2 linked regions of the Homo sapiens genome follow. The protein of the gene in region 1 purifies or fractionates together with the protein of each later gene. This does not show direct contact. Each region holds a gene or a part of one and is shown on either strand. Other genes may lie near its edges.

Region 1 (7,656 bases):
AACAAAAAGACAGGAGTTAACCTCTGAAAATAAGAATATCTTTAAATTACTCAATCTTGAATATTCCCCACGCATTGTATCTCAAGACAGGAGTTTGGTTAAATACCAGTAAGATAACCTCTAACCAGTTATAAAGACATCAATCACCTCTAAAAGTGAACTAGAGATATAGATATCACCTTATAAAAATTCCTGACATTTGATAGGGAGTAGTAAAAATGGAATTACTTTAAAATCTCCCATTTTTGTTAGAGAAAATTTTGGAAAATAATTAAATTTTGTCTATTTTCTTTATTTTTCCATGTATGACACATAGCAGCTTGTTTTGCCACAACTGTTATGAAGACTGTCTCCTTTCATTCCTTTTCTTTTTTTTTTTTTTTTTTTTTTTGAGACAGAGTCTGGCTCTTTCACCCAGGCTGGAGTGCAGTGGCCGATCTCGGCTCACTGCAACCTCTGCCTCCCAGGTTCAAGCGATTCTCCTGCCTCAGCCTCCCAAGTAGCTGGAATTACAGGCGCCCGCCACCACGCCCAGCTAATTTTTCTATTTTTAGTAGAGAAGGGGTTTCACCATGTTGGTCAGGCTGGTCTCCAACTCCTGACCTCAAGTGATCCACCCGTCTCAAGCCGCCCAAAGTGCTGGGATTACAGGTGTGAGCCACTGCGCCCAGCCAGTCACTGCACCCGGTCTTTCCCTTTTCATTACCACATCCTCCATCATGCAAAATGAGAAGAGATCATCTCAGAGAGATACCTAAAGTATCTCAAAAGAAAAAGTCCTCCATGATTTTAAGATATTTTTGTCAAGCACTTTAGGAGGCCCAGGCGGGTGGACAGCCTGAGCCCAGGGGTTGGAGATCAGCCTGAGCAACATGGCAAAACCCCGTTTCGTCTTTTGGCGAAACCAAAAACTACAAAAAATTAGCTGGGCATGGTGGTGCACGCCTGTGGTCCCAGCTACTTTGGAGGGTAAGGTGGCAGATTCGCTTGAGCCTGGGAGGCGGAGGTTGCAGTGAGCCGAGATCGCACCAGTGCACTCCAGCCTGTGCAACAGAGCGAGACCCCCCATCTCGAAAGAAAAGATATTGTCATAACTTTATTTCTACCTCTCTATGCAGAAAATCCCATTCGATCTGGAGAATAGTACTTTTACTTATAAAACTGAAGCATAACTATCTTGTGTCTCCAGTAGGGGTACTACTACTCTCATTAAGTATAAAAAAAGTTTTTAATTGGTCATACAAATCTTAAGAAATTTAAATTTGGTCTTCAGAATGAAATGCTATAACGAATGGCTTCAAGCACACAACATGGAACATTCTGAAATCCCTGTTTCTTTTTCAAAAAGTAAACTCCAGCTACTTACTGAACAAGAACTGGATGCTAGTGCTAATGTGCTAATTTTGTTTTTCATGCCAAAGGAGTTCTGCCAAAGAGGTTTCTAACCTGTCCTCCTTGTTCCCTGCATTATACTTTTTACAGAAAGTTCCTAGCCTCGAAGGCGGTACGACCATGATGTAAAATATGTAATTCAATTATTTTGCTTTAGGATATGCAATCCATGTACTTTGCTTTTCTGATTTATAATGCTACTCCCTCCTCCCCCAGGGTAAAGGAAAGTACAAAAGGAGAGAGCTTCACAGTAATCTGCCGACTAAAACATGATACCCGATCACCGCATTTAAAACTTTTTATTTTTTCATTTCTCTCAAGTCTAGAGTTGAAAAATCAGCTCACTTGATCTTATCTAATCATCAAATAAAAGGTTCTAGAAATAGCTTCTTATTTGTGGAAAGAGCCAGAAGACACATACAAATGGAAGAGAGCTCTTGAATCGTCTTTCCCAAAGCATTCTATGCGTGATGAATGCAAGCAAAATCCTGGAAGGCTTTTCTCTGAATTAGGTACTTCCTAATTGAGCTCATTTGAAAGCTGATGTAAAATGCAATCAGAAAGCAGCCAGAAACAGTGACAGACCAACAGCAAAGTTCAAATACTTATTCCCTGGAGCTCATGCTGCATACACATATTCCGTGCACAGTCGCATTAGGTACTGTCTCCATAGGCTCACCTGTTTCAGGTTACACATGCTCCTCTCGGTCTGGTTGCCCTGGTTTGCCCACTCCACACATTCACAAATGACTCAAGTCTCACCTGCCCCCGGCCGTCCCAGCTCCTGACACCCCCGCGTCGGTCCGCACCGACGTGTCGGCGTACACACACACACACACCCGTACACACGTGTCCGCACACACCCTCGCCCCCGGCCCCGCCCAGGAGGCGGACCCGGGAGAGGCGAGCCGGCCCGGCCTCCGCGAAGTGGGTGGTGCCGGGCCCCGCAGCCCTGCCGGCGCTGTCATCGCGGACGCCGTGCACCGCGTCCTCGGCGCAAACTCCTCGCGGCCGCTGAGGTTCCCCAAAATGCCAGGGCCTCGCCAGCTCCCATTTCAATTGAAAGCGTCCGCGCCCCTCACTGCACGGAGGTCCCTGGAACCCCAGAATTTAAATAGGGGCAGGGGGCGAGCATAGGGACTATCCTCCTTTTGACTTTCTGCGTCGCAATTCCTCCCGGGCGGCAGGGCGGGAGGGCGGCCGAGCGCGGGCGGGAGGCGCTCCCATTTTGAAGGCTTGTCTCGCCTTTCCCGGCGCGGGGCTCTCTGACCGGAGGGCGAGCCCACGAGAACGCCAGGGAGGCGTACGCAGGGTACTAAGGGCGCCGCGCCCCAACCTCCCCGCGCCCCAGACCCAGGTCGTCTCTGGAGGTGCCTGCAGCCCCCGCCGCCGGAGCCACGGGAGGAGCCGCAGCCGCCCCTCCGGGAGCCGCGCGCTGACTGCAGTGCCAGGCGGAACGCGGCCCAGCGCGGCTGCAGCTCCGCCGTACCCCCCTCCCTGGAACCCCGGCCCCCGCCCTGCGCACCTCGGCAGCAGCCGAACCGCAGCTTGGGACTCCGACTGTCACAGCCCCTCTCGCCGGACCCGGGGTTTCTCCGTTTTCGGCGTCACAATAATAAGGAAGTTTCCCCGCAAGCCTGCGGGCGGCGGAATGCGCTGGGTGAATGGCTTCGCACCGGGCCAATGGGCGCCGTTCTGGGATGGGCCCGCGCCAATGGCGGCCGCCGTGGCACGGGCTGGAGGCGGGGCGGCAAGGTCCGCGGGCAGGAGGAGGGGAGAGGCCCAGGCCCCAGAGCCAGGCGCAGGCTGCCCGAGGTGACAGGACTCGAGGGCCCGGCGCGGGGACAGCGGCACGGGTGTGTCAGCCGAAATCGGACTGCAAGACATAGAGCGTTGACGCTGAAATAAGATTGCTTTTCACTGGCGGGGAAGCGAGCTGGACCGATCAGCGGTTGCCTATTCAGGTTCTGGACTCTGGTTTTTATTATTTATGAAGAGGTGACCGAAAGCCTTGGGCACGGGGGAAAAAGCTGGAGGGTGACAATTGAGGGAGAGTGCGCTAGTCTTCTGCTTTACTCCCCTTCGTAGGACTGTAGGAAGCGCGGCGCCGGCCCGCGGCGCTGCGCGGTGGGAGAGGCGGGGAAGGAGGTACGCGGCAGCCGCCGGCGCTCTTCTGGAGAGGTGGGGATCGAAGACCGGCACGGGGCTGCGGAAGAAAGGCGGGCCTGGGGGAGGCTGGAGGGTGGACCCGGGGGGAGCATAGCAAGAAGAGTCTGAGCACCAGATCTTAAAATCTTGTAATCTGAAAGACACTCTGTGGCCTATACCCAGTAACGGATTTTTTAAAAGTTTGTCCTCTTCCACTTTTCCCTAGCGCCGAATCCCAGAGCTTCCTCCCCCTCCCCAAGGTCACTAGTGCTTTCATACTTGCCCTAGACCTGATCTGATCCACAGCTAATCTTTTGCAGAAAACCTCAGAAAGGTGACTTCATGTGTCTGCCCCCCTTAAATGTAAAATGCAGAACACTGGCACGGTACTGCTTTAATCCAAAGGAATAACTCTCCCAGTGGAAGAATTTCTATAACCTGGCATTTGAAGCAGGAAGGCCCTTTGAGGATAGATTCTTACCAAGGACATTCAAATCACCTCAGGTCTGCAATCGCTCGTCCTGAGAACCTAACAGACTGACCAAGTAGAAAAGAAAGTTTCAAGGAGTGGTGTATCCTGGGGATGAGACGTTGTTGGCTGACTGACAGTGTTGAGCCCTCCGTGAAATAATGCAAATTGTCCAGTACACTGAGACAAGAAAGCTAAAAAAGCAGAATCTAAGTTATCAGGTCATCTAAGAAAAAATCCAAACCTTTGAAATTTGGATCACACTTGACACGTTTAGAAACACTGGGGATGGCCAGGCGCGGTGGCCCATGCCTGTAATCTCGGCACTTTGGGAGGCCGAAGCCGGTGGATCACTTGAGGTCAGCAGTTCGAGACCAGCCTGGCCAACATGGTGAAACCTTGTCTCTACAAAAAAAAATACCAAAATTAGCCGAGTAGGGTGGTGTGCGCCTGTAGTCCCAGCTACTCAGGAGGCTGAGGCAGGAGAATCACTGGAACCTGGAAGGCGGAGGTTGCAGTAAGCTGAAATCAAGCCACTGTACTTACTCCAGCCTGGGCAACAGAATGAAACGTTGTCTCAAAAAAAAAAAAAAAAGAAAGAAAAAGGAAAAAAGAAACACTGGGGACAAGAGTAACACAATTCACTTATATTCCAGATATGTGGCAGTTTCACAAAAGTTTAGTCTATTACAAAGATGCAATCCCAATTTAGAGATGCTGTTGGCAAAAGAACTGGTTAAATGCCCAAAGAGGAGTCTGGTAGGAAGACGAAGGAGTCCGGTACTTGCAAAGGAGAAAGTGAGAGATCCTATTGTTAGGTGTCACATATGAGGTTTGTAATCAATCAGTGTTTGGGTTGATATGTCTGGCCCATGGCTCAAGTGTTTTTCTTTTTTTGTTGTTGTTTTTTTGTTTTTTGTTTTTGAGACGGAGTCTCGCTCTGTCGCCCAGGCTGGAGTGCAGTGGCGCAAACTCGGCTCCCTGCAAGCTGCGCCTCCCGGATTCACGCAAGTCTCCTGTCGCAGCCTCCTGAGTAACTGGGACTACAGGCGCCCACCACAACGCCCGGCTAATTTTTGTATTTTCAGTAGAGACGGGGTTTCACCATGTTAGCCAGGATGGTCTCAATCTCCTGACCTCGTGATCCGCCCACCTCGGCCTCCCAAAGTGCTGGGATTACAGGCGTGAGCCACCGCGCCCGGAGTTTGTTTTTTTGAGAAGGAGTCTCGCTCAGTTGCCTGGGATGGAGTGCAGTGGCGCGATCTCTGCTCACTGCAACATCCACCTCCCCGGCTCAAGCAATTCTCCTGCCTCAGCCTCCCGAGTAGCTGGGATTACAGGCGCTCACCACCACACCCGGCTCATTTTTGTACTTTTAGTAGAGGCGGGATTTCACCATGTTGGCCAGGCCGGTTTAGAACTCCTGACCTCAAATCATCTGCCCACCTCGGCCTCCCAAAGTGCTGAGATTACAGGCGTGAGCCTCCGTGCCGGCCGGCTCAAGTGTTTTTCATATGAAATTTCATCTTGAGGAAAAGGATGGTTATCAAAGACTCAAGCCTAGAAATGGGATAGGAGCAATGTATAAATAACAAGTTAGGATACTGTAAGCTTCTTTTACCAAATAAATAGCCAAACCCTGAGAACTTACATAGAACTTACATAGAACAGTAAAGATACCACAGTACTTCGATTTATTTTTTTTCATTGGGACAACATATAATGACAATTTCCTTAGCAAGCATGTCCTGCTTCAAAATGGCTTTAAATGGCTCCAGCATCAGCAATAGTCTTAACAGCAGATACGTAAACTGTTTTGAAGAGGCCATGGTTTACTTTTTCCTTCCATTTCTATAGCCCTGTCTTCCATCCATTTCTTTCTGCATTCTCATATATTCTCTAACAAACGTACTATATACTGAGCACCTACAATAATGTCAGCCCCTGTGAATACATTGGTAAGCAAAACAGTACAGTCTTTGTTGCCATGAAAGGGGAGACAAACATTAACCAAATAATTGTACCAAGGAATATATACTTGCTAACCTGTATAAATTTTATAAAAGAAAAACATTCATGTTAAAAATAAAAGGCTTAATAAATTCTAGGCTCATGCCCCTGTAATCCCAGGGCTTTGGGTTACAGGCTGAGGCAAGAGCATCGCTTGAGGCCAGGAGTTTGAGACCAGCCTGTGCAACATAGTGAGTCCCTGTCTCTCCAAAAAATAAAAATAGGCATGGTGGGGCACGCCTTTAGTCCTAGCTACTTGGGAGGCTGAGGTGAGAGAATAGCTTGAGCATAGGAATTCGAGGTTGCATTGAGCTTTGATGGCACCACTGCACTCCAGCCTGGATGACAGAGGAGACTCCAAATACACACACACACACGCACACACGCGTGCACATACACACACACACACACATATAACCATAACTTTTTTTTTAAGAGACAGGATCTTGCTATGTTGCCCAGGCTGGCTTCAAACTCCTAGACTCAAGCAATCCTGCTGCCTTAGCCTCCCGAGGAGCAAGGATTAAACTAACCATAACTTTTGACAGGGGGACAGGACCATGTGGTTCAGCTCTATCACTGGTTAGACAAGGTATGCCCAGTGGCAAGGGGATGGTGCCCAGGGCTGCTGCACTTCTACCTGAACACATGCTGATTTCCTCCATTAGTTACCATTCACTTCTTAAAATACATCTATTTTCAAATGAAACCATTTTTCAATAGAATGGTAATACTGTTTAATGATAATTGTTTTCCTTTCTTCCCTTTGTTTAATTTACTTGCCTTGCAGACAAATATTTACTTGGTAAACTTTGAAAGAGATAGATTTCTGATATCTTGGATGAAATCTGTGGAAAAAAACAGGCTACCCAGGACATTCTGTCTCTCAGATACACCATTGAAGAATAAATATCTTTAGGAGGGAAAAGCACTGACTGATTATTTGACAAGTAAAAAGTATGTGTACCTTGTATGGTTATGTAATGACAAAGGTGTTTCTTGGTCCCCCACGTCCAAAAGAAGTACTTACTTTCTCAGTCTAGTCAGTACTTAATGGAAAAATCAGTCTATCTATACCCAGACTAAACTTATTAAAAACTGTCCTGTAACACACAGCATTGATTTATTAATATGAAACAACTTAGAATAAAAACATTATGGTAAATCAGTATTACCATCAAATAATCTTTTAATATTATTGAATATGTTCCACCTGTAGTACTGCTAGACAAGAAGCATCATTCCTGACTACAAAGAGCTTACAGCCCTTATGATTATTTCTCTATCTTCCTTGAAACTATTCATGGTTTGTTTGCATTTTTTTCTTATCAAGCCATTTGGATGAAGCATAAGAATCTTACCTTAATTATGAGAAACTCATTGTTTTCATATAAATTAAAATGTATTAATGATAACAGGATTGGATGGTTGAACATTTTCTAAGAAAACCTTTAAGTTGAGCATTAGCTGGTCTCTGAAGATTTCATCCAATAAAGCCTTTAGGAAGTGAAGTATTTCGTGAAGGTTCCTCCTTTTAAAAAGTCCCTTAATATGTGCTCTTAGAAATGGCATCCCACATTTCACTATGACTGGACTGGCAAAATAAGTGCTTGGGCAAAAGCAGCAAAGATCACGTT
Region 2 (7,275 bases), on another chromosome or scaffold:
TCCCTCCCATGGTCTCTCTCTAGCCTGTGTCACCACATAACATCCTCAGAGCTTTTATTACAGGTAGTAGAGTGAGGCCCTATTCCCTAGGAGCACAGATGTAGAACCAAAGCAGAAAAAGGAACCACATCTTCCCTCCTGTATGCCTGCATTTCAGCTTGCAGAGATGTTCTTTCAGGTCACCTTTGTGGAGAGGGGATATTCTAGATCCCTATATTAGCCTGTTATGGCCATTACAGCATACATCCAGAACAACTTTCCTGTTCCCAAGGTAGGACGAAATAGTAGTGAAGGATGCATATACCACCTTGAGAAAACAATAAAAGATACCCTATTATGGTAACTTTTGGTGGTTTCATTACAAAAAAAAATTCTTCTTTATACCTTTTTGTGTTTCTCTAAGTTCTGGACCATGGAAACACATATTACTTTGGTATCTTTTAAAAAAATCCTTTTGTAGTGAAAGTCTTTCATTAACCTGTAACTATAACTCATTTTTCCTAACTTCTTGTATACTATTTTATTTCACAAATAATTATTCACTTCCATCATCATTTTTAAATTAACACATGCCATAGCAAGTATTCTTGCATACCCTCTGTTTCTCTCTCTTTTATTCTCTTTACTTACATTGAATATGAGGTGTGATCTATATCATGAGAGAAAGAACTTTGAGCCGGGCACAGTGGCTCATGCCTGTAATCCCAGTGCTTTGGGTGGCCAAGGCAGGTGGATCACCTGAGGTCAGGAGTTCAAGACCAGCCTGGCCAACCTGGTGAAACCACGTCTCTACTAAAAATACAAAAATTAGCTGGGTGTGGTGGCACGTGCCTGTAATCCCAGCTACTCGGGAGGCTGAGGCAGGAGAATCTCTTGAACACAGGAGGTGGAGGTTTCAGTGAGCTGAGATCGCGCCATTGCACTCCAGCCTGGGTGACAGAGTGACAGTCTGTCTCAAAAAAAGAAAAGAAAAGAAAAAAAAAAAAGAACTTTGAATTTAGAGTCATAGACCCTGGTTTTGAATTCTGGCTCCACTACTTAAAAGCTGTATGACTGTGAGCAAGCCTCTTAGCCTATGTCAGACTCAGCTTCCTTATCATAAAAGACAGATGTGGGCTGGGCGTGGTGGCTCACGCCTGTAATCTCAGCACTTTGGGAGGCCGAGGCGGGCAGATCACGAGGTCAGGAGTTCGAGACCAGCCCAGCCAACATAGTGAAACCCCGTCTCTACTAAAAATACAAAAATTAGCTGAGTGTGGTGGCATGCACCTATAGTCCCAGCTACTCAGGAGGCTGAGGTGGAAGAATCGCTTGAACCCAGGAGGCAGAGGTTGCAGTGAGCTGAAGGTTGCAGTGAGCTGAGACCACGCCATTGCACTCCAGCCTGGATGACAGAGTGAGACTCCGTCTCAAAAAAAAAAAATAAAAATAAATAAAAAATAAATAAAAAGACAGATGCTTCATGGAGATTTCTATGAGGATCAAGTGTGGCACTACAAAGGAAAGCTCTTTGTAAATCATTAATGATTATCGAGTGTTTGATCAAATTCACTGTAGACTAACCGACCCATTGCATTAAACAGAACATTCTGAGTCACTATGTGCACATCCCAACTGGGTGATAACAGTATCCTGTTTCCTTTTTCCATCTCTAACTCCATCAGTGCAGCACAGGAATTCACCTGTAAGACAAATCAAGACAAATGGGCCTTTTACCTCTCAGTTTCCTTGATCGATTCCTCAGTGGTCTCCTTGTATTCTGGAAAAGTGTCATTCAAATCCATGCAAACTTTGCCCACAAATGCCCGCTGTCCAAATTTATCTGTAAAGTATACACAAAAAGAATATGAAGGCATGTTTGTTTCTGAAACAGTACTTTTTCTTTTTCTTTTTTTTTTTTTTTTTGAGACGGAGTCCCGCTGTTTAGCCCAGGCCAGATTGCAGTGGCGCAATCTCGGCTCACTGCAAGCTCCGCCTCCCAGGTTCATGCCATTCTCCTGCCTCAGCCTCCCGAGTAGCTGGGACTACAGGCGCCCGCCACCGCGCCCGGCTAATTTTTTGTATTTTTAGTAGAGACGGGGTTTCACCGTGTTAGCCAAGATGGTCTCGATCTCCTGACCTTGTGATCCGCCCGCCTCGGCCTCCCAAAGTGCTGGGATTACAGGCGTGAGCCACCGCGCCCGGCCAAAACAGTACTTTTTCTAAGCTTTCAACAGTAATTTTTAAATTAAAATCATATATGGAAAACATAAATGAAAATGTAAAAGATCATCCACCATCACACCACTTAAGAACAAGAACCACCACAAATTCCCTACTATATTCAGTAAACAGTAAAAGTTTTTCTATTCATCACTTTAACCCACTACCTCCCCCATCCCCATTCTCAGGCTGTCAGGTGGGTTTTTTGGTTTTTTTGTTTGTTTGTTTGTTTTGTTTTTGAGACGGAGTCTCACTCTGTCACCAGCCTGGAGTGCAGTGGCGTGATCTGGGCTCACTGCAACCTCCAACTCCCTGGTTCAAGTGATTCTCCTGCTTCAGCCTCCTGAGTAGCTTGGATTACAGGCACGCACCACTGTGCCCAGCTAATTTTTGTATTTTTAGTAGAGACAGTGTTTCACCATGTTGGCCAGGATGGTTCGATCTCCTGACCTTGTGATCTGCCTGCCTGGGCCTCCCAAAGTGCTGGGATTGCAGGCGTGAGCCACTGTGCTTGGCTGGGTGTTTTTAAGTTATTATTCAGTTTTTCCCTTTGCTTATCCAGTGTGTCTATATTTTCATTAAATATGTAACTATCTTTGCTCTCATTTTATCACATGGTAAAGGAGCAAACAGTCTCAGGTCCTAAAGAAAGACTCTCTTAGTCATTGGCATACCTACACTCAGCTTCTTCTACCCCAACTTACAATCTCCCTCCTGTCTCCTACTCTACCACCATCCCTTGGATCTCTCTCTCTCCCTCTCTCTATCATGGTCCTCTTCTAGACAAAACACAGAATGGCTGAGGGATAAGAACATGAGCACTGGAATTGGAAAGATTTGGACTGATTCCTTATTCCTCTGATTACTCCAGGTGGTGGATATTATTTGGTTAAGGTCTAAACCTATATATGTACAGTGTTCTCTGCTATGTGTAGGGTTGTGAGGAATACATGCAATAATATATATAAGGTGTCAGGCATGTGGTTATCTAGGCAACATACTGCTACTATTCTTTTTTTTTTTTAAGGTGGCGTCTCACTCTGTCGCCCAGGCTGGAGTGCAGTGGCACAATCTCAGCTCACTGAAAGCTCTGCCTCCTGGGTTCACGTCATTCTCCTGCCTCAGCCTCCTGAGTAGCTGGGACTACAGGCGCCCACCACTACGCTTGGTTAATTTTTTGTATTTTTAGTAGAGACAGGGTTTCACCATGTTAGCCAGGATGGTCTCAATCTCCCGACCTCATGATCCGCCCGCCTCGGCCTCCGAAAGTGCCAGGATTACAGGCATTAACCACCGCGCCTGGCCATACTATTCTTAACTGAAACAATGCCAATATTATCTGTGAGGAATTTTACGCAGTCTTACTAGCAGCTCTCAGCACTAGAACCTAGTCCTCATCAAAGGTGCTGGAAGAATTCTATTTCAGCAAGAAAGCTGAGGCTATATGGGACAATGGTAATTGTTTTTACAGTGTCTCCATCTCTGTCATAAGAGATTTTTAAAAACCTTTCTGCCTCTCTCCTTCCCCTGTAATTCATTTAGATAACTGGCCATTAGATTAATCTTCCTTAAAATACCACTTTCATCACATCACTCACACCTGGACTCAGAACCTTTTTTGAGTCTTTGGTGCATATTTGAGCTCTTCTACAATGTGAACCCTCCCATCTGCCTACCCTCTTCTCCCACTGCCCCCAGGCGATGAATCCACTCCTCTAGTTAAACTACTGTGGTCCCTGCATCCACTATTGACACTCCTGTTCCCATACCTGTGTCCTTCCCCTATCTAGAAGACAGTTTGTCCTCTCCTCATCTTGTCTTTACTTCAAAGCCCAGTTTAAAGGACCCTTTCATAAAGCCTTCCCAGATGTCGTAGTTCTGGGTTCTCTTTGCCTTCTCTGAAGACTGTAGTATCTATTTTCAGAGTCACCCATTAGGTCAGGTCTTTTGCATAAGCAAACAGTGGCATCAGTGTATCAGCCAACAGTATTTACTGAGCACCTGCTATGTGCCAGGTACTGTGCTGGGTACAAGTTTTGGAATCATCAACCCGAATCCAGAATCAGCTCTTCTTACTAGCTGTGCAACCCTGGGCATGTTACTTATCCTCTCTGAGCGTCAGTCTAACCATCTGTAACATGAGGACATCAGTAACCACTTCAGAAGGCTGTTTGCTGCTGAACTAATTCTTCCAGAGTGCTTTGCACAATGCTAGACGTCTAGTAACAGCACCATAGTTGTTACTAAGGTTAGTGATCAATGGTGTAGGTATTCTGTCTGGCTTCTCAAGGGCAGAGACTATTTTTTATCTCATTGCGTTTCCAGCATCTAGCACAGTGCCCTGACTCTAGCCAATAGCCACCATGTATCTGCTGATATAAGAAACTATTACCACAACTAGAATTAGTAAAGTTTCCCTAAAAAGCCCTAAATTAATACACAAAATTCAGACTCATATATATCATTCTGTAACCAAAAATTGTAAGTAAATAATCAGAGTACTTAGAAAATAGAAAACACTCTATGATACAGTTTTCTATTTTCTAAGTACTTTAGAAAATTTCCTAAGGGCCACAGTGACATATAGACACGTAATTACTTGCAAAAAATGTAATGCTCATGTTCTAGCAATTAAAAGGCAGGTCTGCCCAAAAGTACATATAAGTTGTTTGCCACGATGGTCTGGCTGTCTTTGCTTGAGGTGCCCATAAATCATGCTTCATTTGCTCACCTGTAATGTCGGCAAGGAGCAGAGATGAGTCAGTGTGAATTGTTGCAAAGTAACAAGCTGTGGTTGTTCCATTCTTTAGTGTTCTCCTCTAAAAATAAATCACAAAAACCGCGAATCACGTGTGCTCAGAAAAGTCACATGGTACATCCAGAGGAAAACAGAATTTTAGTTTTTAATTTTAAAATGTTTTTATTTAAAGGTATGCCATCTTGATGTAGAGTACAGTTAGGTAAATGGCAAAAGGTATTTATATTCCAAAAGTTAGCTGGAGGAGAAGCTGATACTTCTGATTTTTTCTCGATTCACACAGTTCTGTGCTTCAGAATTCATTAAAATGTGATACTAATGAATTCCTTCTTTCTTAGGATTGTTTAAGGATATCCAAATTTTATTGCATCTGGGAGTACATAAATAAGTTTTTCTTCTACTACAGAATAAAAATATTCAGCCAGACTTTAGCTCAACCTGGAAGGTTAATCACATATATCTATCTCCTTTCCTTCGCAAACTACAACAAACATGACAGTAAAGGAGTACAAACGTTATTAACCCACAAGAAGAACATGAGAGGAGAGACATGAGCAGAGAAAACATTTCAATATCTTCTTGGAAGACAAAAAACATGGACGAGAACCTGGAAGCAACTTGGAAAGAAGGAGAGAAGTGTGTGGGTTTTAGCAGGGGACTGGCTGGAAGTCTATGCAGGTATGATTAAACCCTGGCAGGAACCTTGTTGAAATCAGCCAACCACCCTTAACTTCTTCCTTATAAGAGAGATTTACTCTTTATAGAACCTGGATAGTATTTAGAGGGTACAAGCTCCAAAAGAGAAGGTAAAGCAGAGGTTTAAGTGAAAATCTGGCTGACCTCAAGGGCACTCAGTCATTTTCCCCAGAATACCACGTGTACTACTCCCACAACTCCTGGCAGGGGACTAAACGATTATTTTCTAGAGAAAATGAATGGCTCTAAAAGAAAGATGTCTTCACAGTGACGTTTGGGACCCAAATTCACTGCCTTCACTACTCATCCTATAATGAAGTTACCATCAACAAGTGATACCTCCACCCAGAAATTCCAGTCAGCACCTTATAGCATCACAGTATGAATGTATGTCCAGGGTTTGATAGGCATTGGAGGGAATCTATTATCAAAAAGATAAGGAGGGGGAGAAAGAATCTGGAAAAAATCTTAGAGGAAACATAATCTATAAGGTCAGAAAAAAGCTCAGTTAAAAAAAACAACTATGACTCACATCCTCAAAGAAATAAAACACACTATTGCACCCACAAAACAAGAACAGAATGCTATGAAAATCAGAATGCAGGAGCTCTCCAAAAGTAAAAATATTATAAATGAAATGTGGAAGCCAGTAGGAGGGTTGTAGGATAAATTACAAGAGAATTGCTCAGGAAAAGGAAAAGATGAAAATCAAAGGTGAGAACATAAGAAAATTAGGCTCAATCTAGGCAATCCAACATTTAGAATAAGAAATCTAAATTTTTTTAAATAAATGGAAGGGACAAAAATATGAAAAATAATATTCATCTCCAAAATTAAAATCCTCATAGAATTGTCAGCACAGGGAATAAAAAGAGAACCCAAAGTAAGGCATATAATTGTGAGATATTAAGTTCGTAAGTACAGAAAAGATGCTAAAAACTCCAGGAAAAAAAAAAAAACTGGTCACAGATAAATGACAGGACTCACAACGACATTGGATTTCTCACTAACAATGCTGGAAGCAGAACAATGCCTTCAAATTCAACTCATATATATCATTCTGTAACCAAAAATCCTAAGTAAATAATTAAAGTACTTAGAAAATAGAAAACGCTCTATTATATAGGTTTCTATTTTCTAAGTACTTTAGAAAATTTTCTAAGGGCCACAGTGATACACAGACAATTAAGTACTTGCAAAAAATGCAATGCTCATGTTCTAGCAATTAAAAAGGAGGTCTTCCCACAAGTACATATAAGTTGTTTGTCACAACAGGAGTTATTTTTAACATATAATTTTATACCTTGGTAAATTATCAATCAAGTGTGAAGGTAGCATAGAAATATGATTAAGTACCGAAGGACTTGAAAATTTTACTCTCCATGAACTCTTTCTTAGGAAGCTTTTAGAAACTGTCTTTTAGTAAAACACAAGAGTAATCCAAAGTAATTCCTGGATCCAGGGAGTGGGCATTAAACGCAGGAAAGAGGCAAAGAGAATGCCAAGATTACAGTAGTGCTACAGAGAATGCTGACCAGAAACAAGAGAATGGGAGGAGGTGAGAAGATCTTCAAGAAAGAAAATGGAACGGATATTGCCTGACCTGTCTGAGCACTTGG

Evidence for each region.
Region 2: the proteins of HERC3 (region 1) and GDA purify together in Homo sapiens (affinity purification with mass spectrometry; 2 studies listed by BioGRID and IntAct, with this or other methods). This does not show direct contact.

What each region holds. Positions count from the first base shown.
Region 1 is NC_000004.12:88,587,836-88,595,491, reverse strand, and holds the start of HERC3 (probable E3 ubiquitin-protein ligase HERC3), read right to left. Parts: upstream 3,013-7,656; 5' UTR 2,918-3,012; intron 1-2,917. UniProt on the Homo sapiens protein: E3 ubiquitin-protein ligase which accepts ubiquitin from an E2 ubiquitin-conjugating enzyme in the form of a thioester and then directly transfers the ubiquitin to targeted substrates.
Region 2 is NC_000009.12:72,208,433-72,215,707, reverse strand, and holds part of GDA (guanine deaminase), read right to left. Parts: intron 5,022-7,275; coding exon 4,934-5,021; intron 1,823-4,933; coding exon 1,717-1,822; intron 1-1,716. UniProt on the Homo sapiens protein: Catalyzes the hydrolytic deamination of guanine, producing xanthine and ammonia.